Regions from separate parts of the Homo sapiens genome. Here regions 1 and 2 are each linked to region 3. The links come from fine-mapping of genetic effects on plasma protein levels. A gene starts in region 3. Each other region holds a variant in brackets. All regions are shown on one strand. Distances are between the middles of the regions.

Region 1 (5,347 bases), 330 kb before region 3:
ATCTTATTTGGTGAGAATAAATAAACCAAGTTCAAATTTTGAGAAACATTGCAACTTCATATTCTCTCGTGATGCCACCTCAGTGCCTGGCATGATTGAGAGAAAGGGTTTGTCATAAGCTGTGGTCATTACCAGCTTCAGAGGTTCACTCAGACTAGTGGTCTCTGCTTCAGTAGTAACAGTGGTACAGCCCTGACCTGTTTGGCAGCATCTCTGTGATATTCCTTATGTTCGTCTTCCCACACTCATTTATTTCTGTTGGAGGGCTCAGGACTTTCCACGTTACATATCCTATGTGTTTCAGTTTCTGATGGCCCTTGACCAGGATGCTTACAGACTTGTTAGATGAAATCAGGGAGCCCGGCATAGCCGTGATAAGAGGTGGGAGATTTCCCGTCTGTGCCTGAGTTAACTGGCATGGATAGGACCCAAGACAAAGTAGGGTAAGAAGAACCACATTTATGATCCTGTGTCTAAACAGTCTCCCTGGCCTCACCAATGCTGCTCTTATGAAGAACAGGTCCTCTGCCATGTGAGAAAGACCTGCAGGAAGTTGTAGGAGTGTCCCGCTTCCCACGCGGAGAGCGAAGACATTCCACATCCTCATTCCACATCCTCATTCCACCTCCTTCTGAGTGGGGCTGCAGAAGTCCTTGCTATCATGAAGACATTCATCATCTGCACTTCCAACTAAAATCAGTCTCATGTGATCCGTTTTTTCTGTCCCCAGTCCCACATCAGCATTTTAATCTTTGTACAAAGCATGGGGTAAGAGAGTCTCAGACTAAGTAACAGGACAGGGAGAACTGCCAATCCGAGAGCTGCTCTGAAATGCTGTGTGGGCGCATGGCCCTTGCTTCTTAATGCTGAGCTTCCATCTCTTTACATACATAATAGGGAAATGATGATGAGTTCCTGCAAATCTATGATCATAGTGGGTACAAACTGTCCAGAATAGGCATTGCTGGAGAGGTGGTTAGAATAATTATTAGTTTCCCTTTCTTCCCTTTCTATATTCCTAACATATTGTTAGCACTGAATCTGTCCATGGGGGTCAATTTTGACCTAAACAAGATACCTCCATTATGTTAAGTCCTTCCTGTGTTCTAAAACCTATCTCATCCTGGCTGCACCTTACTTAGTAGCTATGCTATCGATTCTCCTAGCTAAACAGGTAGCCTCGATGTAAAATCTTACCTTCCTTATACCCTCATGAACCACTTCTCTCCAAAAATCTGAAATAATTTAATAGCTAACGCTTTACTGAGTTTTCATTTTATGATGATTACATGGAGAAGGATTACATTTAATCTGTACAAAATCTGTGGTAGATTGAATTATTATTCTACATTTTTAAGTCAGCTCTTAATTCATTAGATGCTGAGGCTTTTGTATGGCTATGTATTTGTATAGTATACAAGCAGCATCACTGAGGAGGTAATAGTATTGGATCATGAATATGGGCTCTCAAGCAAGTCCTCAAGGATGTTGTAACCTTTGCTTCAGTTTCACCTTTATAGTTTAACATCCTCATCTATGAAATATGTATATAAAATGGCATCTTTCTCTGGTTTTTAATAAAGACAGCTATTATATAACTTTGCTTTTTTTTTTTGCAAACCCCTTAAACTGTTTAGAGAAAATGTTTGATAAAACTCTTCAGATGAATTTGCTATCAAGAATGGAAAACATGTTCTTGGGTTTTTTTCTTTTCTTCTTTTGGTTTTTATTTAAACCAACTTGGTACTAAGTTCTAGAGGCAAGATAAATCTACTTTTGAGCTATTTGTAATATCTCTAGCTTAGACCTTGATCCTAAGAGATAGAATTATAGTAACTGTTAAAATGAAATGTAGCTAGAAATATGATAAGCTGTTGATATGTGTCTCTGTCATAGTGAGATTACATTTAAAGGAAACTGCACAGTACCTACACTGCAAATATGTTTAGTAGTTTTTTAAAGTTGTGCATCTGAGAAAGCATGATTAAAATTAGCTTTTTAGATGGTGCTCACAACCTTTAAGGCCATTAATGGTAGCATCCAAAGACTAAAGGAAATTTAGTTTTAACTCTGCATAGTCTTTTCTGGCAATTAAAAATGATTAGATTTATCTTTTTTCCCTATGAAAGTTAATGAGCAAATGGATCTCAAGCTGTTGTAAGCAGTGTAGTATTGTTAAGGCTTAGATGTTGTGAGCTGAATTAAAATTCAAGCTCTGCCACCTTGTCAGCTTTGCCATTTAAGGTAACTTATTCTTC[T/C]CTAAAAGCATTAAGAATGCCTGCCTTGTTAGGAATGTTGTGAGAATTTTGTTAAATGAGGTATGTAAAATGTTTAGCATGGGATCTCGAACATTATAAGCATATGATAAATAATAGATATTATATTTTTTCAAAAATGATACTAGGGCCGGGCGCGGTGGCTCACGCCTGTAATCCCAGCACTTTGGGAGGCCGAGGAGGATGGATCATGAGGTCAGGAGATTGAGACCATCCTGGCTAACAAGGTGAAACCCCGTCTCTACTAAAAATACAAAAAATTAGCCGGGCGCGGTGGCGGGCGCCTGTAGTCCCAGCTATTCTGGAGGCTGAGGCAGGAGAATGGCGTGAACCCGGGAAGCGGAGCTTGCAGTGAGCAGAGATTGCGCCACTGCAGTCCGCAGTCCGGCCTGGGCGACAGAGCGAGACTCCGTCTCAAAAAAAAAAAAAAAAAAAAAAAAAATGATACTAATATTTTTCAGGCAGCTAATGTTCTATTTCAGGAATGTCTGTCATGTTGTCTGGGAAAGATATGGCACATAGAAGTTATCACTTATGTGCATTTGGAGCTCATAAGATCACTTTAAGAATTGCCATTGTATTACCAAATAGTTTGGTTAATTATTATTTATAATGTAGATTACGTGGTTTATTATTACCATGTGTTGTAATTTCTCTTACACCATTATCATTCCCTTAAACATCCAGCTCTTTGAGTTGGATGAATCCTTCCTAAGAGATAGATTTCAGTGAAATTGATAATTCAAAAGTAAATTATGTATGACACTAAGGAGGATTTTAAAGTTTACAAGGAAGTTTATCTCAAATATATACTTACTGATCACCAACTGTATTTCAGGCACTCTCCTAGGTGCTAATGATACAGAGATATAAGACAATGGTTGCTTTCAAAAAGCTGATAGCCTGGTAGAAAAGACAGACAACAGAACAATTAATTAAACTGAAAATGATAAGTGTGCTGATACATGTTTCCCCAGGGCATTACAGGAAGACAGAGCAGGAAATTGTAATCATCAGGAAGAGAGTTAGGGAGAAAATAAGCTAAAACTGATGAGATTTTCTGAAAGTGATGTTACTTGAGCTGAGCTTTGAAAGAACACTCATTAGTTAGGAACAGGAAGTTATGGAGACAAAGGCAACATATAGATTTATATGTAGAGTGATATGCTTTGGCTGTGTCCCCACTAAATCTCAACTTGAATTGTATCTCCCATAATTCCCATGTGTTGTGGGAGGGATCCAGGGGGAGGTAATTGAATCATGGGGGCTGGTCTTTCCTGTGCTATTCTCGTGATAGTGAATAAGTCTCACGAGATCTGATGACTTTATCAGGGGTTTCTGCTTTTGCTTCCTCCTCATTTTTCTCTTGCCGCTCCCTGGCCAGGCATGGTGGCTTACACCTGTAATCCCAGCACTTTGGGAGGCCGAGGTGGGTGAATCACAAGGTCAGGAGTTCAAGACCAGCCTGCCCAATATGGTGAAACCCTGGCTCTACTAAAAATACAAAAATTAGCTGGGCATGATGGCATGCACCTGTAGTCCTAGCTACTCAGGAGGCTGAGGCAGGAGAATCGCTTGAACCCGGGAGGCGGAGGTTGCAGTGAGCTGAGATCACACCACTGCACTCCAGCCTGGGCGACAGAGCAAGAGTCCGTCTCAAAAAAAGAAAAAGAAAAGAAAGACAAAAAAAAGAAGTGCCTTTTGCCTCCCACCATGATTTTGAGGCCTCCCCAGCCATGTGGAACTGTAAGACCAATTAAACCTCTTTCTGTTCCCAGTGTCGGGTATGTCTTTATTAGCAGTTTGAAAACGGACTAATACAGTAAATTGGTACCAATAGAATGGGGTGTTGCTGAAAAGATACCTGAAAATGTGGAAACGACTTTGGAACTGGGTAACAGGCAGAGGCTGGAACAGTACCTCCTGTGGAGGAAAATGTGGGAAAGTTTGGAACTCCCTAGAGACTTGTTGAATGGCTTTGCCCAAAATGCTGATAGCGATACGGACAATACAATCCAGGCTGAGGTGGTCACAGATGGAGATGAGGAACTTGTTGGGAACTGGAGCAAAGGTGACTCTTGTTATGTTTTAGCAGAGAGACTGGTGGCATTTTGCCCCCACCCTAGAGATTTGTGGATGATTTAGGGTATCTGGTGGAAGAAATTTCTAAGCAGCAAAGCATTCAAGAGGTGACTTGGGTATTGTTAAAGGCATTCAGTCTTAAAAGAGAAACAGAGCATAAAAGTTCAGAAAATTTGCAGCCTGACTACGCAATAGAAAAAAAAACATTCTCTGGGGAGAAATTCAAGCTGGCTGCAGAAATTTACATAAGTAGTAAGGAGCCTCATGTTAATCCCCAAGACCATGGGGAAAATGTCTCCAGGCCATGTCAGAGACCTTCATGGCAGCCCCTCCCATCACAGGCCCAGAGACCCAGCAGGAAAAAGTGGTTTCGTGGGCCAGGTCCAGGTCCCTATGCTGTGTGCAGCCTAGGGACTTCGTGCCCTGTGTCCCAGCCACTCCAGCCATGGCTGAAAAGAGCCAATGTACAGCTCGGGCTGTAGCTTCAGAGGGTGGAAGCCCCAAGCCCTGGAAGCTTCCAGGTGTTATTAAGCCTGCAGGTGCACAGAAGTCATGAATTGAGGGTTGGGAACCTGTGCCTAGATTTCAGGAGATGTTTGGAAACGCCTGGTTGCCCAGGCAAAAGTTTGCTGCAGGAGCAGGGCCCTAATGGAGAACCTCTGCCAGGACAGTGCAGAATGGAAATATGGGGTCAGAGCCCCCACACAGAGTCCCTAGTGGGGTGCTGCCTAGTAGATCTGTGAGAAGAGGGCCACCATCCTTCAGGCCCCAGAATCACAGATCTATTGACAGCTTGAACCGTGTGCCTGGAAAAGCCACAGACACTCAATGCTAGCCCATGAAAGCAGCCGGGAGGGAGGCTGTACCAGGCAAAGTCACGGGGTGGAGCTGCCCAAGACCATGGGAACCCACCTCTTGCATCAGCGTAATCTGAATTTGAGACCTGGAGTCAAAGGAGATAATTTTGGAACTTTAAAGTTTGACTGCCC
Region 2 (5,347 bases), 340 kb before region 3:
TTTTCCAGCTTGGTTCCATTCTCCCCATCACTTTCAGGTACACCAATCAGACGTAGATTTTGTCTTTTCACATAGTCCCATATTTCTTGGAGGCTTTGTTCATTTCTTTTTGCTCTTTTTTCTCTAAGCTTCTCTTCTCACTTCATTTCATTCATTTGATTTTCCATCCCTGATACCCTTTCTTCCAGTTGATCAAATCAGCTACTGAAGGTTGTGCATTTGTCACATAGTTCTTGTGCCATGGTTTTCAGCTCCATCAGGTCATTTAAGGACTTCTCTACTCTGGTTATTCTGGTTAGCCATTCATCTAATCTTTTTTCATGGTTTTTATCTTCTTTGCATTGGGATCGAACTTCCTCCTTTAGCTCTGAGAAGTTTGATCGTCTGAAACTTTCTTCTCTCAACTCGTCAAAGTCATTCTGCATCCAGCTTTGTTCCATTACTTGCGAGGAGCTACGTTCCTTTGGAGGGGGAGAGGTGCTCTGATTTTTAGAATTTTCTGCTTTTCTGCTCTGTTTTTTCTCCATCTTTGTGGTTTTATCTACCTTTGGTTTTTCATGATGGTGACATACAGTTGGGGTCTTGGTGTGGATGTCCTTTCTGTTTGTTAGTTTTTCTTCTAACAGTCAGGACCCTCAGCTGCACGTCTGTTGGCGTTTGCTGGAGGTCCACTCCAGCCCCTGTTTGCCTGGGTATCAGCAGCAGAGGCTGCAGAACAGCGAATATTGCTGAACAGCAAATGTTGCTGCTTGATCGTTCCTCTGGAAGCTTCATCTCAGAGGGGTACCCGGCTGTGTGAGCTGTCAGTGTGCCCCTACTGGGGGGTGCCTCCCAGTTAGGCTACTCGGGGATCAGGGACCCACTTGAGACAGTCTGAACATTCTCAGATCTCAAACTCCGTGCTGAGAGAACCACTACTCTCTTCAAAGCTGTCAGACAGGGACGTTTAACTCTGCAGAGATTTCTGCTGCCTTTTGTTTGTCTATGCCCTGCCCCCAGAGGTGGAGTCTACAGAGGCAGGCAGGCCTCCTTGAGCTGAGGTGGGCTCCACCCAGTTCGAGCTTCTGGGCTGCTTTGTTCACCTACTCAAGCCTCAGCAGCGGTGGGCACCCCTCCACCAGCCTCGCTGCCGCCTTGCAGTTCGATCTCAGAGTGTTGTGCTAGCAATGAGCGAGGCTCCGTGGGCGTTGGACCCTCCGAGCCAGGCGCAGGATATTATCTCCTGGTGTGCCGTTTGCTAAGACCCTTGGAAAAGTGCAGTATTAGGGTGGGAGTGACCCGATTTTCCAGGTGCCATCTGTCACCCCTTCCCTTGGCTAGTAAAGGGAATTCCCTGACCCCTTGCACTTCCTGGATGAGGCGATGCCTCGCCCTGCTTCAGCTCACACTAGGTGGACTGCACCCACTGTCCTGCCCCCACTGTCTGACGAGCCCCAGTGAGATTTCCTCAGTTGGAAATGCAGAAATCACCCGTCTTCTGCGTCGCTCACTCTGGGAGCTGTAGACTGGAGCTGTTCCTATTCAGCCATCTTGCTAATGTTCTATGAACAGATTTTTGTACGTATCTTAAATAATTGCATTAGGCTAGATTCTTAAAATGAAAATCCTATGTCAAAGGGTATGAGTATTTTAAATGTTCTTAATATATAGTACCCTACCATTTTCTGGATGGTAGGCAATTTTGGACACCTTTTCGTGTTAACATTGTCATTGTTTTCAATAGGTACACTATATCTCATTAAGTAGAGTGACCTAACTAGTTCTTTATTGTTGGATATTTAGGTTATTTTTTGATCTTTGCTCTTCTAAGGAATTTTCTGAATATCTGAATGTTCTTAGCTTTTCCATGTTTTAAATATTTTCTCTAGGTCCCCAAATTGGAAACATTTTCTCAAGGAGTATGAGTACTTGAAGGGCTCCATTCACATAATTTTAAATTGCTTTCTATAAATATTATATCAATTTATAATACCGCTAATGAGGCATGAGAGTTTTACATCTGTATTAGTCTGTTCTCATGCTGCTAATAAAGACCTACCTGAGACTGGGTAACTTATTAAAAAAAAAAAAAAAGGTTTAATGGACTCACAGCTCCATGTGGCTGGGGAGGCCTCACAATCATAGCACAAGACAAAGTAGGAGCAAAGTCATGTCTCACATGGCAGCAGACGATACAGAGAGCATGTGCAGGGGAATTCCCCTTTGTAAAACCAATTAGATTTCTTGAGACTTAATCATTATCACAAGCCCTGCTCCCATGATTCAGTTACCTCCCACTGGGTCCCTCCCACAACACTTGGGAATTATGAGAGCTACAATTTGAGATTTGGTGTTGGGCTCAGAGGGTGAGGGGAACACACACAGCCAAACCATATCAACATCATTGGCTAGAATTAGCTGTCATTTATATTTTTCACATTTACATATTTTAATAATGGCATAGTGAATTCTACAAGAGAAATTTGAGGAGAGAGCTTGACTAGTAGTCTTTTGTGCGTGTGAGTTTCTTATGCTTTTTTGTTCTCTTTTAAGAATTAGTGATTTTGTTATAAACTTACAAGAACTTTTTTTGAATGAAGCTATTAACTTGGTTAAATTTGTTTCTAATAAATTTATTGTCACTGTTTTGCCATTTTATTTTAGTTCTGTGTTGCTGGATACTTTTTATATAAAATTGAATATTTTTATGTAGTCAAATCT[G/T]TTGGGTTTTTTTCTTTATGATTTCTTCTGTTACTTCTAAGCCTAAAAATTCAGCCCTTCTCCCATGTGAATTCTTATTCTGTTAGTTTGAACCAAATGAACTTGCCACTTTTATAGTTAACAAATGATTAAGTATCAGTATTTCATATAGTTTAATCTTGAAGTTTTTTTGAAGTGTATTCATTTTCCTTATTGGAATATTTTTTTCCTCATGGCCTAACAAATAAAAAACAAAATATATGCAAAAAACCTGAATAAGATTACATATTTTTTTTCATTTTGGTATAGTGGTCTTTTTTTTTTTTTAAGTATAAGTGGGTGTTAATCATGTGGTAAAGAGTTGGATTATCATTCCTACACTACCATACTAATATATTATTTAGTTGCTCTTTCATAATATATATCTTTTAAAGTATACAAAGCAGTACTTTTGATTATATATTGTTATTAATGTAGCAAATTTCATAAATAAAAGTAGAACTTAATTTATGTCATTTTTTAGGTCAGAAAAGAGGAGTCACAAAGAGACTAGCAAGAAAGAGAGAGGGATCTCTGATTGTTTTAGAATGAAAGCCCAAGGAATAATGTATTCATTATATATATTTATCTTACTTTGGCTCTACATTAGAATTTTAAAAGAAATATACCATCATAAATTAGCAATCAAGTTTCTGCCAATACTTTTTAATCATAACTAACAACACCCATAGTTTTGGACTTTCCTGAAGTAGAGATCATTAGTTATGATGAATTGTGAAGTGGTTTTGTGATTATACTAATGTTGACTAAAACATCCGTGTTTGATCATCTATATCATTTTCACTTATTACTTGAGCCAGTTATTGATTCTAGGTCTCCTGGGGCAAAAAACTGGTATGTTTATTCATTATAAGTTTCACCTCTTAAAATAAATCCGTAACCTCATGGTAGGAGCAGGAGTAGGTGTCAAAAGTTAGATTACAGGCAAAACTTAAATATTTCTTGCAAAACTTAAACATTTCTTAAATAGGGAGACTGTTTTTATGAAAACGTGTGATATAAACATACTTTGTACTTAATTATAAACTTCAAAATTTTTAATTTACTATTTTCCTTATCTTTTAAAGATTTTTTCCTTTTGTCATAATATCCATTTTTCCCTGATCCATCCAGTCAAATTTTACTTAGAAAACAGATAGGATTAAGGATAAAAAAGAAAAAGAAAAATTATTACCATTTTGCTATGTATTTTTCTATGATAGCATATTATTTTGAATTTTTTTTTCCAAATCTGGATCATTTTACATAGTTTTGTAGTTTTTAAAAAATGTAATGTTAGCATTTCTGCATGTTACTAAATGTCTTTACATTTGAAAAATTGACTGTTATGCTACTTCCATCATGGATTTGGACCATAATTTATTTAATCATTTTTCTCTTAGGGATGCTTTTCTGTTTTTTGTTTTTTTTTTTTTTTGAGACAGAGTCTCGCTCTTTCGCCCAGGCCGGACTGCAGTGGCGCTATCTTGGCTCACTGCAAGCTCCGCCTCCCGGGTTCACGCCATTCGCCTGCCTCAGCCTCCCAAGTAGCTGGGACTACAGGTGTCTGCCACCATGCCCAGCTAATTTTTTGTATTTTTAGTAGAGACAGGGTTTCACCATGGTAGCCAGGATGGTCTCGATTTCCTGACCTCATGATCTGCCCACCTTGGCCTCCCAAACGCTTTTTTGTTTTTAGAAACATTGTGATGAGCAGACTTGCATAGGTAAGGAAACCAAAGCCCTCAGTCAATTCTAGAATGCAGTTCTTCTGACATCCAATTAATCTTTTGTGTTTTGCCTTTTTTCCTACCATATAAAACTAGTGATTACTATGAAACATGCCCTCTATGCAAATATTCCATCTAGAAAAATCTCTCAGTACAGTATTTAAATAAAATTATTTTTTGTAACACATTTATAGTAGCATGAAATAAAGTATGTGTTTGATCTTTTTTAGTTGGTTAATCTGTATTAGTGTGTATTTTGAACACATTGGTTCAGACAGCTCGATATTTAATATATTTTTTAGGACAAAACATATTGTAAAAAGCATTCTAGTACTTTCAGCACTTTTCATTGAGTGAGGACAAAGCTTCAAAAAAGTAAATTTGAAAGCTCTATCAGAGGCAAAGTAAAGTAACTGCATTCAAAGATAGAAATTATAACTTGGAATAAAAACACAGAAGGTTTTGTCAAGGGAATTAAAAATCTATGTGAAGTCTCTAAAGCAAAGAGAGAAATAGGTAGACTGTTCCAGGTAATTGGTGCTGCAGGAGAACACCATTCCCTTTCCAGCAGTCATACAAAGGGAGACAAAATAAAGAAGTTGAAAGAAAAGTAGAAGTTGAAAGAAAAGTAGCACAGAGAATGGGTGTCTTACAAATAACCATTGCAACACTACAGAAGGATTTAAAAAGTGGGAAGTATTATTTTAAACTGAATCCTAAAAGGGTCAGGAAAGACATTTATATAATTGTTTAAAATAACGTGTTTTCTAGAACATCCTGAAATGTTAATGTTTATGGACTAAAAAATGTGCTGATACTTAAAATTATGGCAGCAAAAAAAGAAGGCTATAAAGATGCTAAATAAAAGAAGATACTAAAGCAGGGTTTAAAACTATATA
Region 3 (5,000 bases):
TGCTTGTTTTCAGAGGTATCTAATTGGGCCTGGCCTATTAAATTCTAGACTTATCATGTGAATACCCTAAAATAGATAACTTACTTTATAAATGATATGGTGTCATAATCTTATGAATTCTAGTCTTAAAACTTTCAGTATATTTCAGTATTAATGGGGTGTCCATTTGCAAGGCCAGATTTTAATCTGACTTTATATACCAACTCAAGACTGGTTACTTTTAAAGTTTTTCCATTACTCTTACTCTTTGCTCCTGAAATAACAAAGTTTTTGAAATGCAGATGCAGCAGTCTGTGTCTGGATATAAAATTAGAAGATTATGGCATTGGGTTATGCTTTGTAAAGATGGCTGTCTAGCAGCTCAGATGCCTTTTAATGAATCTCTTTATGAATTATGCTCAACAGAAAGGCAAGCTTTTTAAAATTTCAAGATGGCTGTGGTACAGATTGCAGTTCCTTTCTTTTAAGTTTGTCTCATTAATAATTTGACAGTTGTGTATAATCTTTAAAATTTCCCTTCCCCATTACTGAAAGATCTTCATCTGAATGGTGGTATCAGCTGGCATTCTATTGCTTCTGAATATCTAAGAGCACGTTCTTTCTCTAAAAACCCAGTGAAAAATAGAATGAGAAAAGCAGACGTTAAGAAGATGATTGATTGGGGAATAAATTACTTCACTCATTTATATTAGGCATAAGTTCAGACTGCCCTAAGAGTATGTAACTTCTTAAGAAATTCATTTGAACTGAAGTGTATAGTCTTTTTTTGTGTAGTTTGGTAGAAATAATTCATATACCTAGGAATACCCAAAGATAGTAAAGAACTGATCCTTGTAAACTTTGCCCATATGGTCAGTGTTTTTCAGAGGCAGGTATTTCACAACAACTTTTTAAAAAGAGGTAAAACTAATCAATCTTACAGATTTGATCAGCAAAGATGATCTGGAATATTTAGAATTAAATTTGTTTAATAAGAACATTTTGGCTGGGCTTGGTAGCTCATGCTTGTAATCCTAGCACTTTGGGAGGCAGAGGCAGGAGGATCACAAAAATTAGCCAGGTGTAGTGGCATGCACCTGTGGTCCCAGCTATTTGGGGAGGCTGAGGTGGGAAGATGGCCTGAGCCCGGGAAGTTGAGGCTGCAGTGAGCCATGTTCTGCCACTGCACTTCAGCCTGGGTGATAGAGTGAGACCCTGTCTCAAAGAAAAAAGAAATTTAACTTACTTTTTGTATAATTTCTTCAACAGCAAATTTAAGGTGATACTTATGTCCTCTTCCTGGAATATCCTAAAATTAAGAAAATGTAGTGGAGACAAGAAAATATTATAACAACATTATACTTGCATTGTTAGAAGTATGCATCTCATTTGGTTGGAGGGGCTGGCTGAAGGGGAATGGTGAAAGCCTTAGGTCTTGAAAAAGGCATGTCACCATGAATGTAACATCTAATTTAGCAAGTCCCCTATCAAGTTTATTTTGGATGAAAACAAAAGAGTAGGATAAAAGCATACAAATTGGGCACAATTCACTTTCAATCATCAAAAGACTTTATTTAACCCCTGGATCTGTGATCTTAAAGTCTCTACATAAGAAAGTTTGAAACAGCGTTTAATTCTAAAGATGACAATATCACCTTTGAAAAGATTTTTTCATAAAGCTCAGTGTACCCTCCAAATAATGTTCAATGAATGTGAATTTCATTTTGAGGCAGATTACTGCAAAGCAATTGGAGACTTAATACAATTAAGTATTGTTTTTACTTATACATTAGTGAAACTGCAAAATGATTAACAAATTATATAAGACTAAGAAATGGTATTTCACTTTTAAATCAAGATACAGATTGAAAATTTATACCTAATTCTGTTATCTGGTACAGTTTCAAAATAAGATCTACTGTGTCACCTCTAAAAGACTGTTAGCAGTTAAAATTCTGTCAGATAAATAAGGGATAATCTCAAATCCAGTAGATTTTCGTAAAATGAAAACAAACCTCGTTAGTGATTGCTGAGGCCTTAAACATTTAATTCAAGCCTTTAGCAGAGGGTGCACATCATTTAAGGCAGTCATGTGGTAGCGGTGTTTGGGTGGCTAAAGGCCAGCGTCAGCCCACAGTGCTTTTATTCTTTGACTTTGATTGTCAGTTTCTCTTGCTGTTTGTTTCCCCCTTCATTTTGGTCAAAGGGTCTGATAAGGATTTGTCTTAAAATGTAGGCAATAGAGTCTTGGAAGATGGGAGCTTTTGTTGGTCCAGATCAGAGTAGCAGATGAGAAACGTGGCAGCCTTAGTAGTCTTTTGAATGGTTTCTACAGTTTACACTTAAGGAAAGTGCTGCCCCTTACCTAGAGCGTGTTCCCGTTTTCTTGTAACTGTGTGCGTAAAAACTTTGTCTCTGCCTTAAGGTGAAAACAGTCCCGGGCTGTCTCCAGAGACTGGAGTATAGACATTCCCCCAGAAACCTTAATATCTCAAGACCAGATACCAGCAGTGTGTCCTAAAACAGAAGGTGGGTAGGGGGTGGCACGGAGTGTCTGCACCCAAAGGCTGAGACCGCGGGTGAGTGGAGGGAGCGCAATCCTGAAGCCTCTGCTGTCCACCACCCCCTGCTAAACTCACCTCCATGCTGGCTTGTTTGACCTTCTGCACCTCAAACACCCTGTGCGGGGTCCCCTGCTGGTAGTTGATGTAGTTCTGTGCCACCAAGGCCGCCCTGGAGGCTGGGTAGTTGGTCGGCGGGATTTCCATTCCGGATGAGCAGTGACTTCAGGGCTTGGGCTACTCTGGCTTAACGGGACCAGTAGCAGAGCGCCGCCCGTCCTGCTTGCTGCTGGGTCCGGTTGCCGAGGCGGAAAAGTCGCAAGCTCCTTCAGTCAGTCTTCTTCCTCAGCTCCTTCCGACTCCGGAAGCTGCTGTTTGGGCCCAGGCTCCCTGCATCCGAGAGCCCTGGGCTGACTGCTTCTGAGGCCCCGCCCCACTACTGCCTGCAGCGGGCTTCCTTACTCCGCCTGCTGGTTCCTACTGGAGGAGAGGCCAGCATGCTTGTCAGGCACCAGCAGGTGGAGGTGTGGGGAGGGAGTCAGTGGGCTAGGTTCGCTGGGATTGCATCTTTCGTTTCATTAACCTTTATAGAAGTGCAGGGTGGGGCTTTCGCTGATATAGGACATCTCTGAAGACTCTAGTTTCCTGTCCATGGGAAAAAAGTCTGGTTGCTTCGCTTGCATACTGGAGCACAACTTCCTTATACACCGCATGCAGCGTCCCTGGCAGGGCAAGGTACACAGTACTCCAGGTAGTGATTCGATTCCTTCATTTCCCTTCCCCTTATGAGAGTCCAGGAAGAGGCTTGCTCATCCTCAGCTTTTTGTGGGTTTGGACCAGTTCTGCCCAAATCAAAGTATGAGAATCTGCAAACTATAGTATTAAATTGGGAGATTATGTAATTTGGATCAGGAGAAATAAAAAAATGCACCTGTACCCCTCTCCTTTACTAATCTTAAAATGATAAGTTTTGATGTAACGCCATGCTTCCAACTTGAGTCATTTTGAATATTTTACTTCAAGGATTAAAATAAACTTAAAAACTGAACTTATACAAAGCACTCTCTCTGGTATGTGGTCTACCTCATTGCAATGGGCCTATAAACCTGACTTTGTAGAAGTACAGGTTTATCCTTGGTGGTCTTAGGTTAATTGGGCTAGGATAACTTGGAGATTCTACCAAAGTTTGGCCAAGGTCTTCGCTGCCTGGATTGAGACCTTTTTTTCTTTTCTTTTCTTTTTTTTTTTTTTTTTTTTGAGATGGAATTTCACTCTTGTTGCCTAGGCTGGAGTGCAATGGTGCTATCTCGGCTCACTGCAACGTCCGCCTCCTGGGTTCAAGCAGTTCTCCTGCCTCAGCCTCCAGAGTAGCTGGGATTACAGGTGCCCACCACAATGCCCGGCTAGTTTTTTGTATTTTTAGTAGAGACGGGTTTAGGCTAGGCTGGTCTCAAACTCCTGACCTCAGGTGATCCACCCACCTTAGCCTCCCAAAGTGCTGGGATTACAGGCATAAGCCACCATGCCTGGCCAGGACCTTTAACTTGGTAGTAATGCACACACCCAAGACTCTTGAGGTGTATCTCTTTCTGATTATGTAGATTCTGCAGTAAATCTGGATTCTGGACTTTGGCCTCAGTTTCATGCTTATTATTGTCTCCTGGGATTTGGGGGTTCTGATTGACTTTGCCTTTAAATACCATCTGTCTGCTTGCCCATCATCTTGTATCAAATGTCAATGAAACTTTTCTCAGTCTTGTCCGTGTATGAGAAATTTGCTTTGCGAGACACTGTCTTTCACACATGACCTTTTTTTTTTTTTTTTTGGAGACAGAGTTTCGCTCTGTTGCCTAGGCTGCAGTGCAGTGGCGTGATCTCGGCTCACTGCAACCTCCACCTCCCAGGTTCAAGCATTTCTCCTGCCTCAGCCTCCCTAGTATCTGGGACTACAGGTGCACTTCACCACACCTGGCTAATTTTTTTGTATTTTAGTAGAGATGGGGTTTCACCATGTTGAGTTCAGGCAATCCTCCCTCCTCTGCCTCCCAAAGTGTTAGGATTACAGGCATGAGCCACCGTGCCTGGCCTCTCCACGTTTCTTAGTTCAGCATTTGTTAAACCCTGACCCACCCATGGCAATATTTTTGCAAATACAGAATATCAGCCAATTTTCGATGGGGTTGTCAGATACGAACTTACACTGTCTCCTGGGATAAATTTACCAAAGAATTGGTGAAATTTGGGGAACTTTGACATGAAGAAGACTGTTCATTTGAGAGACACTTTAGAAGAACACCAGAAATAAAAAAATAAGACTTTCGGAGAACAGTATTTGTCTTATTTGTCTAAGAGCATTTTAAGTAGAAGACTGCCCATATTTTATTTCCATACTTCAAGGTTTTTTATTAATAACATGGCTTATATTTAAGCTTTTTCCTCTCTCCTTGAAAAGAAAAGATA

Direction of the effects. Positions count from the first base shown, and alleles are read on the strand shown. Strength reflects both the effect of a copy and how common the allele is.
With allele T in place of C in region 1, the plasma level of the protein whose gene starts at base 2,917 in region 3 is higher (weak association).
As copies of T replace G in region 2, the plasma level of the protein whose gene starts at base 2,917 in region 3 goes down (weak association).

Evidence for each region. PIP is the posterior inclusion probability: the model's chance that the variant is causal. Protein levels are from antibody-based Olink assays in UK Biobank. Linkage for the fine-mapping came from a reference panel and not from the study's own genotypes, which makes the PIPs less certain.
Region 1: its variant is fine-mapped to the plasma level of the LXN protein (UK Biobank, PIP above 0.99).
Region 2: its variant is fine-mapped to the plasma level of the LXN protein (UK Biobank, PIP above 0.99).

Annotation. Positions count from the first base shown.
Region 1 is chr3:158,336,607-158,341,953 of GRCh38, forward strand. The region is part of intron 5 of RSRC1 (arginine and serine rich coiled-coil 1); the gene reads left to right. It also overlaps the pseudogene LILRA2P1. Among named protein-coding and RNA genes, the nearest start is that of UC.134, 190 kb to the right of the region's middle. The variant T/C (reference allele first, on the strand shown) is at 2,259.
Region 2 is chr3:158,328,831-158,334,177 of GRCh38, forward strand. All of the region lies in intron 5 of RSRC1 (arginine and serine rich coiled-coil 1), which reads left to right. Among named protein-coding and RNA genes, the nearest start is that of UC.134, 200 kb to the right of the region's middle. RefSeq lists an enhancer at 636-1,165. The variant G/T (reference allele first, on the strand shown) is at 2,701.
Region 3 is chr3:158,669,732-158,674,731 of GRCh38, forward strand. It overlaps LXN (latexin), which reads right to left and starts at 2,917. Exons shown (of 6, transcript NM_020169.4): 1 at 2,619-2,917; 2 at 1,226-1,288. The coding sequence starts at 2,747. The region is part of intron 13 of GFM1 (G elongation factor mitochondrial 1); the gene reads left to right. RefSeq lists enhancers at 2,134-2,726, 2,241-2,300, 2,727-3,319, 2,741-2,790, 3,101-3,290.